2 linked regions of the Homo sapiens genome follow. The protein of the gene in region 1 interacts with the protein of each later gene in a pairwise test. Each region holds a gene or a part of one and is shown on either strand. Other genes may lie near its edges.

Region 1 (3,587 bases):
CTTTAGGGACCGTCAGAAGGCTTCTCTGGAAGCCACCCCACTGCTCACTCATACCCACATCTCTGGCTCAGAGCCCTAAGCCACAATAGGCTCTGTACTTGGGGAGAACTACAGGGGACTTCTGAGTATCTTCAGAGTTCTCTGTGTCACTTCCCCTAGTCCCCTTGGAACAGGGTGTCTGTGAACTCCATCCAGTGCATGTGGAATCTGAGGCCTCATGCCACCTCCTGCTCACCAGAGCTCCTGGGAGAGAAAGTGGAGCCCGGGGCACCTGCAGAGGCTGTTCCCAGCTTGGTACGAGAGCTTTGGCACCTACCTGGCTGAAGGTCACGGTGAGGGTGCTTTCTGGAGAGGGTCTGTCCCGGGATAAACCCTCCTGCTGACTGCAGTCCAACTGGATCAGGCTGCGGCATTCTGGGTGACAGGTGAATTTACAGTCTGGAGGTAAAGAACAAAAGGGAGATTAGAGGACAGGCAGGATTCCTCCCCACTTTCACCCAGAGAAATAACCTTGGAGATTGCATTAGTTCCCAGTGGGAAGAGCAGTGCAGGAGAGAAGTGGTGGGGCGGGAGACAGCGTGAGAATGCCACCCTGCTCTCGGATCCCCCAGGAAGGATGCAAGTTAAGTGCTCTACGCGTTTGCAAACTGCTTTCACCTGCATTACTTTGTGTGACTCTGCAATCATTATTATTTCCATTTTACAGATAGAAAATCAGTGCCTAGAGACTGAGTGACTTTCTCAAGGTCAGAACTTCTGCCTCCCAGACTGGTGCTCTTTCTACCACTTTACATTAATCACCAGCACCCATAAATCCCTGGGGAAGGACTTGACTTTTATGGGCCTTATGTTGCCAATCTGTAAAATACAGGTTGTGCATCCCCAAGCTGAAAATCAGATCTCCAAGATGCTCCAAAATCTGAAACTCTTTGAGCATCGACATGACACTCTAAGGAAGTGCTCACTGGAGCAATTCGGATTTTTGATTTTCAAATTTGGGATGCTTGACTGGTATCATACATATTCCCAAATCTGAAAAAAGTCCAAAATCAGAAACACTTCCGGTCTCAAGCATTTCAGATAAAGGATACTCAGCCTGTATGGGTAATAGCTCCCCTGCCTGCTTCTAGTTATAAAGGAGGACATATCTTGAAGAATTAAAAGTGCTTCCAGAGACAAAGGCATTATCATCAGCAGGAAGTGCTGTTACCTCTCTCTGACCCGGCCTAGGCTAGAATGTGGGGATGCTACTCTGAATGCAGCTGAAATAGCCCACAGACCACATCCCAGATCCGGGGATTCAGCGGGGGAAGCACATTCCATCGACAATGTTCACTTCCATGGAAGCAGAGACTTAGTGACCAGAGTTGAAAAGAGCTTTGGGGACTACCTCAGAGATGGGGAAACTGAGGCCAGAGAGAAAAAGTGAGGTGCCCAATGACACACAGCTCATTGGTGGCAGCACCAAGGCTGCTAGTATTTTCCAGCTTTCTCAAGGGCTCTCTTTGGAGCCTCCTGGCAGAAGGGAGGTGAAGTCAAAGGCAGCAGGAGACTCAGGGAGGCGAGGGAAGGGCAGGGGAGCGGGGGTGGGGGGTAGTGAAGACAAGGTGGCAGCAGAAGAAAGTAACACAAGTCCATCCGCAGGGAAAATGCTCGGATCTGAGGTGTGGTCCTCACAGATAGCTGCCAGGTCAGCTGGAGTCACCTATTCTGGAGGTGCCTCAGCTCGGCCAGAAGGCCCAGCCTTCTAGGCGCTGGAATCTCATAAATTTTCCTTCTGGACTGTGAAGGCAAGTCATGAGGATGGGTTAGGGTGGGCGGGTTTTGTGGCAGGAGTCGTGACAGCCTGGACTTGATTGCATACCTGGGGATTAGGGGGCCACTTTTTGTTGATAAGGGCTCAGGCACCTCGAAATGCTTTTCCTTCCTTCTAACAAGCTCCAAAAATTCAGTACATTTGGTGTCGATTTTTAAAAGCCACCACAGCACACTCTATCTTGGCAGAGGGGTGATGGCTCCTTTTCTCCCCACTTTTGGGGAGCTTTGGAATGACACCCCCCTCTCCCCAGCTGCCCCTTCCCTTACTCCCCCAAAGATAAGCACCTGGACCATGTTTCTTGCACGGGTTTTGCCACTAATGTCCATAGGGGAGCACCCTGACAAATGTGGGGACACACAGAGATCCCAGAACCGCACGACCTTCCTACCCATGGCCTGACCACCTTTCTGTAACAGTGTCTGGAACCTTCACTGCTCATCTCCTTTGTGCTCGAAAGTGAAGCCCACCAATATCCTCTCCTTCAGATCCCACGCTTCTCTACGCCTCCCTCCTCCTCTCACTTGGAGACAGAAATGAATGAAGTCAATTCCCTGGGGCATGCACCCATCTACCTGCAGGCACCCACATGCATTTCTGGTCCTCCGTGGGAGACCTCTTGCTCAGCACAAAAACAGCCTCCCCTTTAGTAAGGTGAAGGGTACAAAGGGAAGTGCAGGCCAAACTTCTGCCCGCAGTGCCCAGAAATACCAGGGTTTTGATAAGGGAGCACTGAGGCCAGAACCCACAATGGGCAGCATTGTTCCTGGCGCTGGCCCTGGGACACACCTGTATGGCTCTGGTAGAGCTCTGAGCGATGAAGAATGCTCTGAGGATGCCAAGAAATGGCAGCAAGGAAAAGGAGGAAGGACTGAAAGCTCGCCCAGCTCCACGGTGATGACAGCTGCCATAACTCACAAATGGGAAGGCACCTGGGAGAGGAGGAATTTCTCTCTCCTCCTCTTTTAGCTCCTTGTCCTGTTGGCACAGGCAGTCTATGTCCACCTGTGCATCTGAATCTCTCAATTTCCATCTCTCTCTCTCTCTCTCACACACACACACACACACACACACACACCACACACACACAGACACACACACACACACACCCTGAAAACATCACCATGCTGAGCTGGACAACACTAAGTAGCAGAAGACTCTGAGAAGTGTTCTGGGATTTTATAAGAAGCATGTTTGAGCACCAAAGACTTTGTTCCATCGGACCATGTAATCACAGGCTGCAGCAAAACCTCTGAAGCACATCTTCATACTTCCTCGTCCTGGAAATGCCAAGCCCAGGGCTTTTAGGCCAGCAGAGATGAAGTCAGAGCCCCCATGCCTTTCTCCAAACCCAAAAGCAACAGCCTGCAGGCCTGACATTTTCAGGGATTGGGGAGACCCATGAGATTCCAAAGACAGAGCCACATTCCACTAGACCCAGTGGTTAATTCTCCACAGACCACAGTTCCCTTAAGGCAGCTCGTCACCAGCTGCTGCCAAACCAAACCAACCCCTGCCCTTGGTATTCCACTGTCCTCCACAGCCTTCAGCTGGTGCTCAATTTATGTTTTGTTTTTTGTTTTTTCTTTTTGAGGCAAGGTTTCACTCTGCCACCCAGGCTGCAGTGCAGTGGCACTATCGTGGCTCTCTGCAAACTCCACCTCCCGGGCTCACCTCAGTCTCCTGAGTAGCTGGTACTGCAGGCGCCCACCACTGCACCTGGCTAATTAAAAAAGGGTTTCACCATTTTTCCCAGGCTGGTCTCGAACTC
Region 2 (3,587 bases), on another chromosome or scaffold:
CCTCCCAAAGTGCTGGGATTACAGGTATGAACCACCACGCATGGCACAAAATTACTTTCTACGGCTGAAATCTGTAAATCCCTAATGCCAGTGATTTTATTGTCTGTCTCAGCTCACAAGATAGTTACCAAGGCATCAACAATTAAGTAACTCCTATATATAGTACACACTGCTAAATATAATATGCAACAAGAGCCTGCAGCTGAAGAGGCAATACAGAATATTGCTCTGAATTGAAACATATTTGCATTTGAGTTCTGGCTCTATCACTTACTAGCTAGTAATCTTGGACAAGTTACCCAGCCTCCCCAAGTTTGTTTGTTTATTTGTAAACCTAATTCAGCACGTTTTTGAGGATTAATGAGAAAATATATAAAGTAGAACAGTGTCAACGTACATACTAAATAAATGCTGTATTACTGAAGAAACAGTAAGGTACAAAGTAGCTGTAGTAACTTGTTAAGTAGATGCCTAGTATCTATCCCTAAAGATCTAACTACTGCTAACTGAAAGAATACCTATCTCAAACAAACCCATCTACAGGCTACTATATTTAGACTTAACAATGCTTCACACAAAGCCTTGACTGTCTAATTCCTATTTAAATCAAGAAATAAGTACCCAGACGCCAAATTCTCAAGGAAAACCAAAGAAAGAAAGTGGAACATCAAGCAAACTTTGCTTCAGAGTTTCAAAGCTTAGAGGGGCAAGGGACCCAGCCAGCCCCAGAGAGTCTAACAAGAGACCATGTAAGCTACACAAAGTTAAGGTCCCCAAAAGCTTTAACCTCATTATAAGAGTAAACTGTCCCTCAAAGAAAACTGCTAGTCTGGAACCTTTCACACCGGAGGAACAGAGGCCTAGGGTATAAGGAGAGGGGCTTTTCTGGGGCCAGCAGTACTGCCAGGAGCAGGAGAGAAACAAAGCAAATCCCTTCTTAAAAGAAAATCTACCTTAAGTACAGTCCCTCCAAAATTTCCATAAACAAATTTCTAAGAAATATGAGCTAACAAGGTATCTTGAATGAAAACGGTGATATAATTAGGGTAGCAAGCAATTTTTAAAGAAATAACTAGAAAACGCCATATATATGGATATTAAGAACATTTTTAGAAACTTACAGGTCAAAGAAATCAAAATGAAAAACAAAAAAAAAACAGAAACGCTCAATCAAAAACAAAAAAGACTGCAAAACTTGTGAGATCCAGCTGCAGTACTTAGAGGTATGATACCATCTCTATAAAATTTTTTTAAAAAGCCATACAACATATTAGTATAGCTGCATACATATATAGACACAATTTATGATAATGGTTATCTCTGGGGATAAAAGGAAGAGAAAAAGATTTGGGATGGAGTATTTCACCTGTATCTGTAGCTTATTTCTACAAATGATGATGATGATGATAGTATCTGAAGTAAAATGTGGCAAAATATTACTCTCAGTTAAGTCCTGATAGTTGGCTACACTAGGATTATTTTCTGTATTAATATCCAAATTATTAAATTTTTCATAATCTAAAGTTTTAAAATTTGTCTTCTGAAGTTAAATGCAAAAATGTTTAAAGAATTTTTTAAAACCTGGATATTTATGGTAACCATTTCTTCTAAATGAGTAATTCAGAAACCAACATCTAAGGACACAAAATCAAATATTTAAAATGTTTTAAATATGACATCATACAACTTTAACTTGTATTACCTGAAATACTCACATAGTAATTGTCATTTATTTGAACCATTGGTGCGTTCACACAGGCCCCTAAACATTCCACTTCTATAAGAGTGAAAAGTTTGTCAGGTGTAGTCTCCCCAACCTTTATTCCTAAAAATACAAATAAACACTCTAAGGACCAGGTTATATTTTAATAGTCATTTGGTTTAAAAAAAAAAAAAAGAATTTTTATAGAGGTATATTAAAAGTTTAAGACTATTAAGTTTTTTAAAAAGAGGCCAGGCGCGGTGGCTCACGCCTGTAATCCCAGCACTTTGGGAGGCTGGGGTGGGCAGATCACGAGGTCAGGAGATCTAGACCATCCTGGCTAACATGGTGAAACCCCGTCTCTACTAAAAATACAAAAAATTAGCCAGGTGTGGTGGCGGGCACCTGTAGTGCCACCTACTCGGGAGGCTGAGGCAGGAGAGTGGCGTGAACCCAGGAGGCGGAGCTTGCAGTGAGCCGAGATTGCGCCACTGCACTCCAGCCTGGGCAACAGAGCAAGACTCCATCTCCAAAAAAAAAAAAAAAAAAGTTTTTTAAAAAGAAAAAAATCCTAGGCCAGGTGGAGTGGCTCCGTCCTATAATCCCAGCACCTTGGGAGGCCGTGGTGCGAGGATGGCTTGAGCCCAGGAATTTGAGACCAGTCTGGGCAACATAGGGAGACACAGCTCTACAAAAAAATTAAAAATTTTTTTACAGTAGTAAAAATTTTTTACAGTAGTCATGATTGTGCTACTGTACTCCAGCCTGGGTGACAGAGCAAGACTCTCTCAAAAAAAAAAAACAAAAAAAAAACTCTATGTAATTTTAACATTCAAGGAAGTTTTTAGTGGACTTGTTCCTTTAAAAGCAATCAAATTTCAGAGGACTTATCACCAGTGTTTACTGTTATACAGCAGTGCATCAGGCTGTATTATTTTCATTTTGATTGTAATAATTAAACTACTAAAATCACAGTCACATTATCAGATTTGGCAAAGACTCAGAAAACTCCTAACGTCAAAGATTATCAAGGGATGTGAAGAAAATGGGTAGTCTCATACATTTAGGGAAGGCATTTGGGAAAAATACGGTAAAGTCTGACCCTACAATTCTACTTCTTGTAAACTATCTCAGCATACAACAGGACAAGTACGCAAAGATGTGTGTGTACATCAAAGTAACTGTTTGTAAAAGAAAAATGAGGCAGGCCAAGCATGGTGGCTCACACCTGTGATCCCAGCACTTGGGAGGCCAAGGTAGGAGGATTGCTTGAGGCCAGGATTTCACAACCACCAGCCTGGGCAACATAGCAAGACCCCTCTCTACAAAAACAAACAAAAATCAATTAGCTGGGCTTGGCAGCATGCACCCATAGCTACAGCTACTTGGAAGGGTGAGGCAGAAGATCACTTGAGCCCAGGAATTGGAGGCTGCAGTGAGCCATGATCCAGCCACTGCATTCCAGCCTGGTGACAAAGTGAGACCTCAACTCAAAAAAACAGAAAAAAAAAATGAGGCAGACATATATATTGTGCTGTAGAAATACAGCCAAAATAAAGTCTAAAAAGCAAGCATACATGTAGTACATTTATATATTTAATAATTAAAATGATATAAAATCTACAACTAATATATCCAATTGTTATCAGGATTTATACCTTGATGGTGTTGGGGGTGGGGGGGTTTGAGCCAACTTCAGCTGTTTTATATATTTCAATACCACCCAGCTATTTTTACAACATGCACATATTATATTCAATAACAAAATATTACTTCATTTGACATATATAGTTAGAAGTGTAGCAATGGCAGTTTTGTAGGGGAAAATGCCCATTTACTTTTAAAATGCTAATTTACTTTTCAAATGCTACTGTAATAACATCTG

The links.
Region 2: the proteins of RASSF5 (region 1) and NDUFV2 interact in binary tests that used the Homo sapiens proteins (3 or more experiments, as listed by UniProt).

The regions. Positions count from the first base shown.
Region 1 is NC_000001.11:206,535,023-206,538,609, reverse strand, and holds part of RASSF5 (ras association domain-containing protein 5), read right to left. Parts: intron 439-3,587; coding exon 317-438; intron 1-316. UniProt on the Homo sapiens protein: Potential tumor suppressor. Seems to be involved in lymphocyte adhesion by linking RAP1A activation upon T-cell receptor or chemokine stimulation to integrin activation.
Region 2 is NC_000018.10:9,123,112-9,126,698, reverse strand, and holds part of NDUFV2 (NADH dehydrogenase [ubiquinone] flavoprotein 2, mitochondrial precursor), read right to left. Parts: intron 1,826-3,587; coding exon 1,716-1,825; exon of another isoform or gene 1,703-1,715; intron 1-1,702.